Regions from separate parts of the Homo sapiens genome. Here region 1 is linked to region 2. Evidence: fine-mapped expression QTL. A gene starts in region 2. The other region holds a variant in brackets. All regions are shown on one strand. Distances are between the middles of the regions.

Evidence for each region. PIP is the estimated chance that this variant, and not a neighbour inherited with it, causes the effect.
Region 1: its variant is fine-mapped to the expression of ARHGAP35 in whole blood (TOPMed, PIP above 0.99).

What each region holds. Positions count from the first base shown.
Region 1 is chr19:46,958,576-46,966,903 of GRCh38, reverse strand. The region is part of intron 3 of ARHGAP35 (Rho GTPase activating protein 35); the gene reads right to left. Among named protein-coding and RNA genes, the nearest start is that of NPAS1, 57 kb to the left of the region's middle. RefSeq lists an enhancer at 2,793-3,992. The variant G/C (reference allele first, on the strand shown) is at 3,323.
Region 2 is chr19:46,856,204-46,864,531 of GRCh38, reverse strand. It overlaps ARHGAP35 (Rho GTPase activating protein 35), which reads right to left and starts at 3,535. Exons shown (of 7, transcript NM_004491.5): 1 at 3,323-3,535. It overlaps LOC124904791 (translation initiation factor IF-2-like), which reads left to right. Exons shown (of 4, transcript XM_047439803.1): 2 at 1,324-1,410; 3 at 3,212-3,475; 4 at 3,636-4,943. The coding sequence ends at 4,307. RefSeq lists a silencer at 3,227-3,766 and enhancers at 7,314-8,250, 8,251-8,328.

The DNA.
Region 1 (8,328 bases), 100 kb before region 2:
GCTCCCTGACTTCTGCAGCACTAACCCCTGCAGCCTCATGGGCACTGGGCAAACTGACTGTGGAGAGATATTAATTTTCTCTTTGATGTGTGTAGTCATCTCCAATGGGGGCTGGCCTCAGGCTTCCTCAGGATCTTCTTGGCTTCAAAAATGCCTTGTACTTGATAGGCCAGAAATATTATTATAGACTAACTTATTACACTCACTCCATCCCATCAACCCTAGAAAGTAAGACAAACAACTGTAATGACTACACAAGAAAAAAGAGAAGAGGAAAAAAAGCAGAGAGGTGTCATGACTTTGAAATGAAGGACCATACATTACAAAGATGTTCAATTGCATTTTTTGGGGGTGGGGGACAGGGTCTTGCTTTGTTACTCAGGCTGGAGTACAGTGGTGCAACCATGGCTCACCATGGCTTCAACCTCCCACGCTCAAGTGATTCTCCTGCCTCAGTCTCCCAATCAGCCAGGACTACAGGTATGCACCAGCACACCTGATTAATTTTCTAATTTTTTGTAGAGACAGAGTCTCGATATGTTGCTGGGGCTGGTCTTGAATTCCTGGGTTCAAGCAATCCTCCTGCTTCAGCTTCCCAAAGTGTTGGGATTACAGGCATGAGCCACTGCGCCTGGCCTCAATTGCATTTTGTATATAAATAAAATAAAAATCTCAATGGAATGGTTAAAATGCACTAAATAAAATAATACCAAAAATCGTATAAATATTTTGCAAAGAAAGAAAAAAATACCAAAAATATCTTTAAAAGATCCAATAGAAAATATCACATATGGCAAACTGGAAGGTTGCAAAGTAGACCCCAGGGGCTGCTGGATGTACAAGTGAAGCTAGGTATTGAGGCTGGGGAGACTGAGGGTTTCCAACTAATACTTCCTTTATTGACTTGGTTTTGACCAGAGAAGACTAAGAGTCCTTCTAGGGGGCAATATGAACTATCTTATTCATATTTTAGCCTCCAGCATCTAATGGAACTGACACATAACAGGTGTTCAATTATTCTTTTAGGATTGTAAAAACTAAACATTGTGAGGCTAAAGAATATTCTGGCAAAGACAGCAATTATGGGAATGAAACATGGAGTTGAAAAAGATTAATCCAGGCCGAGTGCAGCAGTTCACGCCTGTAATCCCAGCACTTTGGGAGGCTGAGGCAGGAGAGTCACTTGAGCGCAGGAGTTGGAGATCAGCCTGGGCAACATGGCGAAACCCCATCTCTACAAAAAATACAAGAATTAGCTGAGCATGGTGGTGTGCACCTGAAGTTCCAGCTACTTGGGAGGCTGAGGTGGGAGGATTACTTGAGCCTGGGAGATCGAGGCTGCAATGAGCCATGACTGTGCCACGGCACACCAGCCTAGGTGACAAAGTGAGACCCTGTCTCAAAACAAACAAACAAACAAACAAACAAACAAACAAAAAACCCAAGAAAAAGACCCAGAGAAAAAGTTGAATTTTACCAGCTATTAAAGCACTTTTGAGAGTAAAAATTTAGGAAACATGATTTTGGTATAAAAACAAGAAAGTAAAATCAGTAAAACAAAAGAAATCTTAGAAAAGACTCTTTTTTTTTGAGATGAAGTCTCGCTCTTGTCCTCCAGGCTGGAGTGCAATGGCGCAATCTCGGCTCACTGCAACCTCTGCCTCCTGGGTTCCAGCGATTCTCCTGCTTCAGCCTCCTGAGTAGCTGGGATTACAGGCACCTGTCACCACGCCCGGCTAATTTTTGTATTTTTAGTAGAGACGGGGTTTCACCATGTTGGCCAGGCTGGTCTCAAACTCCTGACCTCAGGTGATCCGCCCGCCTCGGCCTCCCAAAGCGCTGGGATTACAGGCGTGAGCCACCGCGCCTGGCCTAAAAAGACTCAATTTTAAGAACTGAATATTTGATAAAGTAATTGTCACAAAATATAGGGGAAGGCTATCAAAAGGTAGTACTATGATAACTGAATAAACATATGAAGGGAAAGAAATCACTTTAGATCCATGCTCTGTATTTGGACAGGCTACCAAAGACCTACCAGGACTGTTCATTTCTGCAAGTTTTTAAGACTTTTATTCTCTCTCTGGGTCCATGTTGGCTTGTGCCCATTTCTTTTTTATCAAAGGATTCACATATTGACCTTATTACCCTGGTAGAACCCCCTTCCATAAGCTCCAATGAGCCACACCAGCCCTTCTGCTGAACTGAAACTGCCCTATCAAGCAAATATTATCCCACATTCAGAGGGTCAGCTGAAACCAGTTGAAAGTTGAGAATTATTTTTGTCAGTTTTTCAATGGGAGATTGGCTTATGGAGTAAAAGTAGACTTAAAGAATGATGCCACTGGCTGCGCATGCTGGCTCACACCTGTAATCCCACCACTTTAGGAGGCTGATGTGGGAGGATCACTTGAGCTCAGGAGTTCAAGACCAGCTTGGGCAACATGGTGAGACCCCATCTCTACGAAACATATTTTAAAAAGTTGCCAAGCTTGGTGGTGCATGCCTGTGGTCCCAGCTACTCGGGAGGATCACTTGAGCCCAAGCAGTCAAGGCTGCAGTGAGCCATGATCACGCCACTGCAGCGCTCCAGCCTGGGTGATAGAGCAAGATCCTGTCTCAAAAAGAAAAGAAAAGAAAAAAAAAAGTCACCTGCTCAGGTTCACAAAATAAATTACAAATTTAAATTTAAATTTATAATAATCTTGTCTGGGCATATAATAATGACTCATATAATAATGAGTCCGGTGGCTCATGCCTGTAATCCCAGCACTTCAGGAGGCTGAGGCGGGTGGATCACCTGAGGTCAGGAGTTCAAGACCAGCTTGGCCAACATGGTGAAACCCCGTCTCTACTAAAAATATAAAAATTAGCTGGGGGTAGTAGCACTCACCTGTAATCCCAGCTACTCGGGAGGCTGAGGCAGGAGAATTGCTTGAACCTGGGAGGCGGACATTGCAGTGAGCCGAGATTGCGCCACTGCACTCCAGCCTGGGTGACAGAGCAAGATTCCATCTCAAAAAATAAAAAAATTAAAAATAAATAAATAAAATAATCTCATCTCTGATGATACAGCATGGCATCTGCTGGCATTTGTGAAGCAGTATCACAGCAATAAACCATTATTAAAGCATACTACGTGGAGGACACCGATTAAGTCCCATGGGAGATAGAAAAATTAACAGCACTGTCGTGTCCTCTTTCGAGGTGACAGGGAGACAAGATAAAGGTGAAAAGTTAGATCACACTTAGATATAATAAAAGATAAGCTAAAAGTTAGGACCAGATGACTGCTAAACAGATGACACAGACAACTGGCATG[G/C]ATGTCCACAGGAGGGACGGCAAAGTCAGCTCCAACAAGGATGGTCATCAGAGAAGAGGCACGCTTTCAGATGGGGCTTGGAAAATAGATGGGATTTGCTGAGGCCAGTGTGGAGGAGTGAAGGCACAGAGGAAGGGAAGCAAAAGAGAAGAAAGTGATGAAAGTGAGGAGGGGCTTGAACTGAGGTCCCACATGGGAATTTTCTGCTGAGAGAGTGCCCACTTTTAAGGCACCCCACGCAGATGTGCTACCAGAACAAGCAGTCAACAGTGTGTGCGTGCCAGCAAGCACTCAGAACACAGCATAATTTCCAATCAAAGACAACAGTTTTTGACCACAGGAAGTGCTCAAAATCATACTATGCCCTGAGTCACATAAGGTTTCCAGATAGAACCCCCACAGAAAAGTAAAGGAATCCTGGACGCTGAGAATCTCCCATCAGGGTAGCACACCATGCAAACAATTCCTTGGAGTTCACCACTCACCACCCTCCCAAAGCAGGCCCAGGAAGAATGAAACAGAAATCTGCTTTATTTTTATTCTGAGCAAATAATTTTACTAAAAAAGATAAAATTTTCTGAAATAGGCTAGCCTGAAAAGGAGTAGGAAGCAGCAGCAAAACGGGAAGGATGAGGATGCAGTGAGAAAAAGGACTAAGAATGAGAGGTTGAGGCCGGGCGCAGTGGCTCATGCCTGCGATCCCAGCACTTTGGCCAAGTGCGGGCGGATCACCTGAGGTCAGGAGTTCGAGACCAGCCTGGCCAACATGGTAAAACCTCATCTCTACTAAAAATACAAAAATTAGCTGGGTGTGGTGGTGCATGCCTGTAATCCCATCTACGTGGGAGGCTGAGGCAGGAGGCAGGAGAATCACTGGAACCTGGGAGGTGGAGGTTGCAATGAGCCAAGATCGCACCACTGCACTCCAGCCTGGGCGACAAAGCGAGACTCCATTTCAAAAACAAAAACAAAAGAATGAGAGGTTGGCCAGAGTAACAGAGAACCGAACTTTTCTCCATCAGAAACTTCCCCACCCTTGTCTACTGCCTGGGTGTGAGGCCTTGTGCTAGAATTTCTGCCCTAAACACAAGAGCATAAGCTATAAAACCAGAAATTCCATTTGACACATGAGCTGGCTCTGAGACTCTCCATTATTCTTCAGGGGCCTCAAGGTGAGAGACATTGTCACACATTCACGGCCTTTCCAAGTGCCAACAACATCACTAGCCAGTCTTGGCAAGGCAGGCCAGGGCTCTGGCTTCTTGCACAGGCTCTCAGAAACCCTGAGCTGCTCATATGGCAAGACAGTGGGGAATCTCTTCAACTCCTGGGTTCTTATCTTTAAAATGGAAGAGTTGGGACTAGAGGCTTTTTTAAAAAACAAACTCTTATTGAAAGATAATACACATTCAGAAGTTTACAGAGAAGTGTACGGTGATGGATTTTCACACAATGACCACACTTGTGTAAACAGCACCCACAGATCAAGACACAAAACATCCCAGCATTCCAGAAGCCTTTTGTGCCCTCTACCAGCCTCTACTCCCTCCCCAAGGATATCCACTATCCCAATCCTTTCCTTCCCTTCCCTTCCTTCCTTCCTTTCTCTCTTTCTCTTTCTCTCTTTTTCTTTCTTTCTCTCTCTCTTTTTTGAGGCAGGATCTCACTCTGTCACACAGGCTGGAGGGCAGTGGCGCAATCTCGGCTCACTGCAACTTCTGCCTCCCCGATTCAAGCAATTCTCCTGCCTCAGCCTCCCGAGTAGTTGGGACTACAGGTGTGCGCCACCACGCCCGGCTAATTTTTGTATTTTTAGTAGAGATGGGGTTTCACCATATTAGCCAGGCTGGTCTTGAACTCCTGACCTCAGGTGATCCACCTGCCTCGGCCTCCTAAAGTTCTGGGATTACAGGCATGAGCCACCGCACCTGGCCACTATCCTGATTTCTAATAGCATGGGTAGGTTTTCTGGTTTTCTACTTTATAGAAATAAAATATACAGTATACATTCTTTTATTTCTGGCTTCTTTTATTCAACGCGTCCATGAGATTCACCCATGTTGTGGAGAGGTGGACTGGATGACTGTAAGGCAGCTGCAATTCTAACATATTACCATTTTACCACTACCCTAATATACAGCTGATGGAGGTGCTATACTGGAGAGCATTTTGGCAATATTGTTTAAAATATAAAATGTACCTATCCTTCCATCTGCCTATTCCATTCTGAGGTATCTATCCTATAGATGTATTTGCATGCACATGTATGTGTGTGTATACATGTGTCTACACATGTATAGATAGCCAATGCAGTATTATCTATATTAACAAAAGACTGAGATGATGTCTTTTAACAGGAGACTGATTAAACAAATTATTATACAGTTGGCTGGGCGCGGCAGCTCATGCCTGTAATCCCAGCACTTTGGGAGGCTGAGGCGGGCGGATCACCTGAGGTCAGGAGTTCGAGACCAGCCTGGCCAACATGGTGAAACCCCATCTCTACTAAAAATACAAAAATTAGCTGGGCGTGGTGGCAGGCGCCGGTAATCCCAGCTACTCAGGAGGCTGGGGCAGGAGAATCGCTTGAACTCGGGAGGTGGAGGTTGCAGTGAGCCGAGATTGCGCCACTGCACTCCAGCCTAGGGGACAGGAGTGAGACTTCGTCTCTGAAAAAAAAAAAAAAAAGCCAAAGAAATACTCTCCAGTCAAGTTTTTCAAAGGCTGATTTATGCCCATCATTATAGGAAAATGTATGCAATACATTTTTAGGTGGGAAAAAGCAAAGCATAGAACAGCACATTCAGCATGGCTCCATCTGTATAAAAAGCAGCCCAGCACATTATATCTATTATGTGTAGACACATATACAGAAAGCTCTGGAAGGTACAATTTAAACTCTTAATAGCAGGTAACTTTGAGAATGAGAAAATGACTTTACTTTTTACTTCTAACGATTCTACAATTTTTTTTAACAAAATACGTGTTCATTGCTAAATTACTTTTCACACAATACAGAAATACGTGGAATAAACAGTAAAAGCCCTATTTTTTTCTCCAATCTGTTCTCTAATAAGAAACTCTCTTCTCTGCATGTAGACCAAAGAATGAAAACCTATGAAATTCTTCATATACAAAAGACCTGAGGAAGCCACAGGAATCTAGGGGTCTATCACCTACCGTCTCATACATAAGCTTCCTGCCTGAATGACTATATTGGTCTACATTGGCTCCTGTGGCACCCACTGCCTAGTCATGGAGGAGACATGTATTCCTTTTGTTTCTTAGCAGAGTGATACGTATACCCAAGAAGATGGGTACCTAATGACAGATCTGACTGAAATGCTAATAAAATTACAGGCAGACAGAAACAGCCAGGGCTAATGGAGAGAAGGCGGAAAAGGGCATAAGCACACATTCCTCAACAAGATCGGGTTACTTTTTTCTTTCTTTCTTTTTTTTTTTTTTTTTGTGAGACAGGTCTTGCTCTGTTGCCCAGGCTGGAGTACAGTGGTGCAATCATAGCTCACTCTAACCTTGAATTCCTGGGATCAAGCAATCCTCCCACCTTAGCCTCCTGAGTAGCTGGGACTATAGACATGTGCCACAATGCATGGCTAACTAAAAAAAAAAAAAAAATTTTTTTTGTAGAGGCAAGGTCTTGCTATGTTGCCCAGGCTGGTCTCGAACTCCTAGGCTCAAGCGATCCTCTAGCCCCTCTGCCTCCCAGCATGCTGGGATTACAGGCTGGAGCCACCACACTCGCACCTGGCTTCGAGTTACCTTTAAATGGCACAAAAGGAGCAGTTTCTAAAACAATGGTAGTGAGGAAGTCATCATCAGTAGACAAAATATAAAGACCATTTAAAAAAGGAGGTTTTTGGGTGGGTGCAGTGGCTCACGCCTGTAATCCCAGCACTTTGGGAGGCTGAGGCGGGTGGATCACCCGAGGTCAGGAGTTTGAGACCAGCCTGGCCAACATGGTGAAACCCTGTCTTTACTAAAAATACAAAAATCAGCTGGGCGTAGTAGCGGGTGCCTGTAATCCCAGCTACTTGGGAGGCTGAAGGAGGAGAATTGCTTGAACCCAGGAGGCCAAGGTTGCAAGTGAGCAGAGATCCTGTCATTGCACTCCAGCCTGGGTGACAAGAGTGAAACTCTTGTCTCAAAAAAATAAAAATAAAAATAATAAAATAAAATAAAAATAAATAAAAAAAGGAGATTTTTGGCTAGGTGTGGTGGCTCACACCTGTAATCCCAGCACTTTGGGAGGCCGAATCACTTGAGCACAGGAGTTTGAGACCAGCCTGGCAACATGGCAAAACCCCATCCTACAAAAAATACAAAAAAGTAGCCAGGTGTGGTGGTGCATGCCTGTAGCCCCTACCTGGGAGAATCACCCGAGCCCAGGAAGTCAAGGTTGCAGTGAGCTGTGAGATTGTGCCACTGCACTCTAGTCTGGGCAGTGAAGTAAAACCTTGTCTCAAATAAATAAATAAATTTTTTTTTAAAAAAGGAGATTTTCCAGAATGCTAAATTTATTTTACTTAACTGTACTTCGTTTAAAAACAGCAGAATAAAGATTTTACCCTTTTTCCTCTGGAGAATCACACAAAAGCAACCAGGAGAATGAGAAACAGAAATATCACCTATTTGACAAAACTGGAGACATCTGTGACCTCAATCCCCAATATATGAGTAAAAACGGCCAAATGCTGTAAAGGTCAAATGAGGGCGTGGGAAAGTGATGAAAGAGAATGCCTGTTGTTACAGATGTCAGAGAAGGCATGCAATTGCAGTTCTCAAAAGCAAATGCTTCACTACCAGGGTGCAAAACCATTGTTTCAAACAGTGGGAACTGGTTCAGGGACTCCTGACTGAGCCTTCCTCAGATCCCATCTGGTGTGCAGGATCATACATACAGGTCCAATGTGCAGGAAGCGGTCAATCAACGAGGTAGAGCAACAGAGAGCAACTGCCTGGAGCAGCTCTCCGATGGCCAGTTC
Region 2 (8,328 bases):
ATTTCTAAATAAGTACTAAAATAAACAAAGTTTGATCATAGCACAGTTAAGAAAGTCCTTCCAGTAAATGCTCCTTCACAGTTGGATGGCTACTTTAATATACAATTGCCCTAGGCCACAGCAGGGAAAAAAATCAGGCTTTTGATTTACTTAAGAAATAAAATAAATAAACCTAGAACATGCAAAAGATCCCCTTTCCCAAGTTAAGGAAGGAAAATGGTTGGACAGATTTTCTGTAAAAACCACCTCTACCCCTGAATGAACTAAATACCCCCCCACAACCATAGAGTCATTAAAGAAAATCGCTCAGGAATGGTAGCCAAGACGCATTTCTCAGATAATAAGACTAAAAATCCAATCACATCCGCCAGTTCCTGGCACCCCTTTCTAACTCTACCCAATCAGGTCACTCAAAAAGCTTAAGGAATGTCAGGGCCCACCCACACACCCCTTGTACGGCAGGCAAAGAGCCCCAGAATCTAGCATGGATCTGCCCAGAGGCACTCAGCTCCTGTGGCAGGGAGTGCCTGCAATACCAGAGGGCAGAAATCTGAGTGACATTTGGCACTCTCTCTTTCAACAAACAACCGCAAAGTGCTTTCCAAACCCAAGCCCTCACCATTTTGAAGACCAGGAAGCTGGAGCCTTTCCCGGGGCAAAGATGAAAAAGAAATAAGCCCACCTTCCCCATCCCCTCCCACAAGGTCACACTGCAAACCAGAGGCCATTAGGGAAGGCAATACTGTAGCTTCCCTAGGTCCAACTGTGGCCATAACCCCTGGTGGGATCGGGATAATTTGAGAACTGGCATTTCCCCAGCTAGAGGTAAAACTATATATTGAAATAACTTGTTAGCTGGGGGGGAGGGGCGAAGGCGGGGGGGAAGGGAAGGACACTCCTAGGGTTGCTGGCTTAGAGGTGGAAGGGGAGAGAGGGTACTCTATGCAATGGCTCAGAGAAGGAAGGAGGGAAAGTGAGAAAGAGAATAAAGATCTGCGAGCAGCTGCAATCCCCTTTTCCAAAGGACACAAAGCTGCAAAGCCCAGAGATAGGAAGGGAGAGAGCAAACAGCAGAGGAAAGAAAATGGGGCAATGGAAAAAGATCTACCTCCCCCCACACTACTAACCTAGTGGAAGTGGGGGAAATGGGGGAGACACTCCCAGACTCCAGAGAGTAGTAACAATCAACCAACCCCCACCTATTTACCCAGATCTCTCAGGATCCCTGGGGAGAGAACCCTCAGGGTTAGGGCGCAGAGAGAGAATCTGCAGTCTCAGAGCCTGGAGAGCCTAAGGCCCAATCCAGCCCCTTTGCCTCTGCAGCAGAGGGATGGAAAGAAAGATATGCCTGAAAGGGGAAGTGCTCAATGGGGAATGGGTGGGCCACGGGTGGTGAGCTGCGAGGAGCAGGTCTGATAGGAACTAAATGGGAAGAGAAGGAGCCTGGCAGGATACAAGGGGAAGGAAAAAAAAAAAAAAGGTGAGGAAGGAAACAAGTCCAAGAGGAACAGAATTGGGAGAGGGATATCAAAGGGGAGTGATAATCTATCACAGCACTGAGGCAGCTCCAAGAGGAAGGTGGGGGGGAATACATAGGAAAGAATGATTAAGAAGACATCGTAATGTCACAATTGGAGTGAGAACTCCAAAAGAAGACAAGAGGCAGAACAGTGGAGGGTGGGCAAATAAAGCAGAGTGAAGGGTGAGGGCTGAATCAAAATGGTGGGGGGAAGAGACTGTCATGTGGAAAACTTAAAAGACTCGGGAGGGAACAGAGAGGGGACACAGTGACAAGAACCCCAGTGTTAAAGGACCGCTCCAAGAAAGGACGGCAATACAGAAGTTAAAAACCGGTCTAAAAATATGCGGGCAAGTGGACAGCTCCGAAGGAGCCGAGCTGGGGAGGGAAACACTAAATAAAGAGGATGGAGCAGAATTGAAAAAAACGAGAAGAAAGTGTAGGTACAAAATGGATCTAGGGGCAGGTCTGTGAGATGCAGAACAGGAAGGGGATGGGTGACCAGCCCGGGAGGTATCAGAGGTATAGTGAGGTTAAAGGGCATGTCTAAGGGCTAAAACGGGGAGGAGAGGAATTGGAGCAAAGAGGGGACAGGAAGCAGTTTTCAGGCAGAGAACTGAAGGAGAGACAGGCCAAAGAAAGGAGAAGCAAATGAATGCAGTAGCTCAGAGGAGTGCCAAAAAGGAGGTGGGGAAGAGAGGAAACCTCCAAGAGAACACGGGCTGAAACTGAAGGCAGTCTGAGTTAGGGATACATCATTTAAGTGAATAGCAGAAATGGGAGACCTGCAGAGTCAGAGAAGGGGGAGGAGGCTGCTTCCCGGGAAGGCAGAGTCAGAAGCAAGCAGGTGAGGGGAGCGCAGCAAGATCTGAGGTCGGGCAAGGGGCAGAGCTGAGAGGCAGAAAGGTCTGGAAGAGAGGAAAGGGTCTGAATGGTAAACGGGAACAAGAGCTGAGAAGGGGAACAGGCAAGCACGGTGCAGCCAAGTCCGAGGGGATCAGGGGAATGAGCTGGGGCACGGAAGGGTCAGAAAGCCAGCCGAGGGGCATCCCGGGGTGCAGCAGGCTCTGCGAGAGGGCAGACAAGAAATGCGGGTAGTAGGGCCCACGAGGGAACGGGATTCAGTCCAAGGGGAAGACCTGGGGCAGCAGTGCCTGGCCGAACAGGGGTCTCAGATGGATCTCCAAAGGGTTGGAACCGCAGGTCCTAAAGGGACAGCTCCCAGGGTGCAACAGATTCTGAGACAGGAATAATAGCACAGAAGGTAGGTCAAAGAAGGGGCCGAGGACAGATCTGAAGGGTGGTGAGAGCAGAATCGAGAAGAGGGAGAAGCGTCACGGATCTCAAAAGTGGGAGCCACAATTAAGAGATGCAGAATGGTCAATGAGGAGAAGATGGGTCCCAGGAGCACTGCAGAGCCCGGGAGGAGCGAAGGGCATTATGGAGGGGTGGAAGGGGGAAGGGGGGCGCAGAATTGGGAACCGGTTGGCTGAAGTCGGGTAGGCTCCGAGGCAGACACCGAGATCCCAACGGGTCGGGGATGGGGGCGGCGGCGGGGACAGCAGGGCTGGGGCGGGCAGGGGCAGGTCCAAAGGGCAGGAGGGCCCCACGGGCCGGGCCGACGCGCGAAGCGACGGGGACGGCGGGGCCCGGGGGGCTGGGGGGGGGGCCGCTCCTCCCCTCCCCCTCCAGCTCCTCCATTGTTCGCGGGCTCCGGGCCCCGCCGTCCCCGCCTCCCCCTGGACCCCGCAGCGGGGCGGCGCCCGGCCTCGCCGCCCGGGGCCCGTGAGCTCGCGCACTCACCAGCTGGGCGCCCTCAGCGCGGCCCCGGCCTCCAAAATCCCGGCAGCAACGACGGGGGCCCCGGCGCCATGTTCCCCTGCTCCTAGTCCAGCGGCGGCTGAGGCGGCGGCGGCGGCTCCGGCGGCGGGGGGCCGGGCGGACCCTCCCTCGCGGGTTCCCTCCTCCGCCTCCTCCACCTCCTCCTGCCGCCGCGCCGCGGCTCTCCCTCGGGGCGGGGGGCGGGGAGGGGAAGGGGGGAGGGGCGGCAACCAGGGGGAGGGCGGACCAGCCTCGCTCACTCCCTCCCTCCCTCCCTCCCTCGCAATGGCGGCAGCGGCGGCACCTCCTTCCTGCGACGGCCGCTCCCGCGCGCGCGCCCCCTCGCTACTGCGCGTGCGCGGCGCGTGGACCGTTGCAGGGGTATAACGGCCCCTGGGCGCGCGCCGCGAAGGGACAACCAGCGAGGCAGTGGGAAGAGGTCAGAGCGCGTGCGCACCCGAGGGGCTTACTGCCACAGCCGCTGCCTGAGGTTAGGAACGGCCGCGGACGGTGCAGTGCGCGTGCGCCCCCGAAAATGCCGCTATTGCGGCGGCCGCCGTCGCGACTGAGCGCGAGGCGACTTGCAAACGAGCAGAGGGAGCGGGATGGGCGAGCGCGCGTGCGCGGGGGGCTGCCAGCCGGCGCAGCTGCTGGCGCAGGGCGGAGGGAGTGGTCCGCAGGAGCTGCGCGCGCGTCTCAAGCAGCCGATCTACTGCCTCGCGCTGGCTCCTGGAGAAAGCCGAAGGAGAGAGGCATGGCCCGGTTTTGGGGGTGGGGGGCGAAGGGCGCGATCCCGCTCGCGCGGGACCTGACCAGCCAATGGGAAGCAATGGGAGGTGGGTTTGCCGCGCGAGCCGCAGCCGCCGGGATAACGGAGGAGGCCAGAAGGAGCGACGTAACGTGGGGCGGTGGGGCGGGGCTGAGAAGGAGGGAGCGCACCAGAGAGGGAGTTGATTGGAGGATATGAGGAGGCGTGGCCCGCCTCAGCCCAATCCGAGCCCCGCAATTCGTCGTCCCGGAAGAAGAGGCGGGGCTGGAGAGCGCGTGCTCTTTCTCCTGGCTGTGAAGAAAATCTGCAGCCAACGCGCGCGTCCATGCAACTTGTTTTTGGTTCTGTGAACGACTGATCCCCAGGAGAGGGAAGACGGCCTGGTCCTGTGTGCAGCCCAAGCCTGTCACTTAGCATTGTGCAAATGGCTACAAATCGAATGTCAATTAGGGCGCCTGAAGGGAAAAGAGTAGTGATGGGAGAGGGCACCGCTGTAACCCTTGACTCCTCTGAACTGAGGAGGTGTTCCTCTGGGACTCCTCCGGAAGTACAGATCGTGGAAGATGAGCTTCCCGGGCGCCGAGCCAATATTTGTGGAATGCATGAAGAAAGGCTGTTTCCTATTACATTTGGCATTTCTGCCATCAGTCTCTTCATCTATAAAATGGGATAATAATCGTACCTCTCTCGTAGGGCTGCTGTGAAAATTAAATAGATTATATTTTGCAAAGCTCTTGAAATCATGCATTGCATACATAGTAAGCGCTCTGTAAGCGTTGATAAATAAAATTACAGGGGCTTGTTTATTCCATTAATAAAGATTTTTATATTAAAGGATGTTTCCATTGACTTTTTTTTTTTTTTTAATGTAGCACTTTTAGGGCCAGGCGCGGTGGCTCATGCCTGTAATCCCAGCACTTTGGGAGGCCGAGGCGGGCGGATCACTTGCGGTCAGGAGTTCGAGACCAGCCTGGCCAACATGAAACCCCGTCTCTACTAAAAATACAAAAATGAGGTGGGCGTCGTGACGGGCGCCTGTAATCCCAGCTACTCGGGAGGCTGAGGCAGGAGAATCGCTTGAACTCGGGAAGCGGAGGTTGCAGTGAGCAGAGATAGCACTGGACTCCAGCCTGGGCAGCAGAGGGAAACTCCGTCTCAAAAAAAAAAAAAAAAAGGCACTTTTAATGCATTCAGTCTGATTTTTAGATGTTAGTGGCTTGAAACAACAACAACTTTTCTTTAAGCACTGCGGGGCTGCCAAATCGAGTGCGTGGACTGTCATTACAAACCGTGATGTGTAAGGGACTTTTGAGATTACTTGAGGAGACACAGGAAAGACAAGGTGGGGGGCAGTGAATTCCTGATACCTGTATTTCAAATTAATGTCTTTACAACGCCTATGCAGTGTTCCGAGTCTTTTCAATCTTAAATTTGTGAGCTGGCAGCATCTGGAGAACAAGGACGCTTGGGCTCACTCTGGATCCCCCAAACCCCTTGGGAGCCCATCAGCTCTGATTTACCCTTCAACTCTCAGCTTGAAGTCACCTTCTCAGGGTAGTCTCCCAGATTTGGCCTGATCCCTCGTTCTTTAATAATAAAAATGAGTACTTCGTGCCAAGCAACAGTCTTTTTTTATTTTTATTTTTTATTTTGAGGCAGAGTCTGGGATTACCAGCGTGCGCCCCGCTAATTTTTGTTTTTGTTGTTTTCTCAAGACAGAGTCTTGTTCTGTCACCCAGGCTGGAGTGCAGTGGTGTGATCTCGGCTCACTGCAACCTCCACCTCCCGGGTTCAAGTGATTCTTCTGCCTCAGCCTCCTGAGTAGCTGGGACTACAGGCGCCACATCTGGCTAATTTTTGTATTTTTAGTAGGGACAGGGTTTCACCTGTTCGGGCCAGGCTGGTCCCGAAGTCCTGGCCTCAAGCCATCCACCCACCTCAGCCTCCCAAAGTGCTGGGATTACAGGTGTGAGCCACTGAGCCTGGCCGCAACAGTCTTTTTTGTTTGTTTGTTTGTTTGTTTTTTGAGATGGAGTCTCACTCTGGCATCCAAGTTGGAGTGCAATGGCGAGGTCTCGGCTCACTGCAACCTCCACCTCCCAGGTTCAAGCGATTTTTCTGCCTCAGCCTCCCGAGTAGCTGGGACTACAGGTGTGTGCCACCACACCTGGCAAATTTTTGTATTTTTAATAGAGACGGGGTTTCACTATGTTGGCCAGGCTAGTCAACATTCTTTTTATTTGTTTTTTTTTGTGTGTGGATTTTTTTTTTTTTTTTGAGACAGGGTCTTGCTCTGTTGCCCAGGCTGGAGTGCAGTGGACCAGTCATGGCTCACTGCAGCCTCAACTTCCTGGGCTCAAGCAATCCTCCTGAGCAGCTGGAACTACATGCTCTCACCATGACACTTGGCCAATTTTTTTTTTCTTTTGGTAGAGATGGAGTCTTGCTATGTTGCCCAGGGTGGTCTCAAACTCCTGGCCTCAAGCAGGCCTCCTGCCTCAGCCTCCCAAAACGCTGAGTTTACAGGCATGAGCCGCCATGCCTGGACATGCCAGGCAGCAGTCTAAAAGCACTTTAGACCCATTAACTCACTGAATCCTCACAACAACCTTATGAGTAAGTTATAAGGTACAGAAAAGTTACACAGCTAGTAAGCAGCAGGTTTGAGACACAAACCCAGACAATTGGGTCACGTTGCTACACGTAGCATTTCTTCAGGGTTCAAGGTTTGCAGTTCTGTGTTGGATCCCAGCACTTTAGGAGACTGAGGAAGAAAGATCACTTAAGCCCAGGAGTTCAAGGCTTCAGTGAGCTATGATTGTGCCACTGCACTCCAGCCTGGGCCACAAGGCCAGACCCTGTCTCTAAAAAGATTAAATGAAGTTCTGTGTTGGTATCACCATTTTATGTGTGAGCCCTCTGAAGGCAGGGGACCCTGGCTAGTTCCAAAGTCTGGCCAATGACCCACAATTAAAACTTGTTAATAAATAAAAGTGAATGAGTCGGCCAGGCACAGTAGCTCAGGCCTGTAATCCCAGCACTTTGGAAGGCTGAGGCGGGTGGATTGCTTGAGGCCAGGAGTTCGAAACCAGCCTGGACAACGTGGCGAAACCCTGTCTCTACAAAACGTACAAAAATCAGCCAGGCATAGTGGTGCACGCCTATAATCCCAGCTACTAGGGAGGCTGAAGCAGGAGAATCGCTTGAACCCGGGAGATGGAGATTGCAGTGAGCCAAAATCGCACCACTGCACTCCAGCCTGGGTGACAGAAGGAGACTCCGTCTCAAAAAAAAAAAAAAAAAAAAAAAAAAAAATCCAATGCTAAACAAGGGGGTGGTAGGCACTGGGGACATGGTAGCCAGAGACTACATGGTTGTCCTTCTAGCCTTCTTTGAGATGCTAGCTCAGATGTCCCCTCTTCCAGGAGGCCTTCTCTGATGCAACAGGCTGGGTCAGCTGCTCCTTCCAAGCTCCCACAGTCCCTTTAGGTCTCCCGTCCAAGCCCTGGCCACCTTGGGTGGTCCATATCTGGTGATAGGTCTTTCCCATCGGACTGCAAGGCCCCTGAGGGCAGGGCCAGGGCTGTTTCAGTCATCGTCGATGTCCCTAGCACGGATCCAGGCACAAGGCAGGGGCCCAGGCATTGTTTTACTGCATGAACGGAACCATCAAGGGGTGCATTCCCAGCTCTGCAATTTTTTCCAGTGCGCAAGAGGGCGGATAGTAGTTGAGCAAGCCAACCACAGGAAGCGGGCTTCCCTGGGGGCAGCCGCCTCCGCGCACCCGGCTAGCCTCCACTCCAGGATAAATAAACAAACGAGTAAACAATTAACCGACCGAGAGAAGTGCCGACTGCCGGCTTGGGCCGCTGTCAAGATTTCCCAAGCATCGGCCTACGGGCCGAATGGCTGGAGGTCACATTAACGGGAGAGCCGCTGGTGTTGGTTGATAAGAGGCGGGCGTGGGATTCTGGACCTGTATTGGAAACCTGCACAGGCAGAAAAATTCACAAAAGGATTTTGTAAAGAGGGTGGGACTCTGGGGTATACACTCTATTCATTCCTAAGAGTCTGAAAGAATCAGAGAGGGTGGGGACCAGGTCTGCGTGTGACGGAGGAGTCAGTGAGCCCACAGCGCCGCCTGCAAACCGAACAGGGGAAGCTGCAGCTGGAGGATTGCCGCGGGGGCTGGCAGAGCGGTGGACTCTTCAGCCATTGG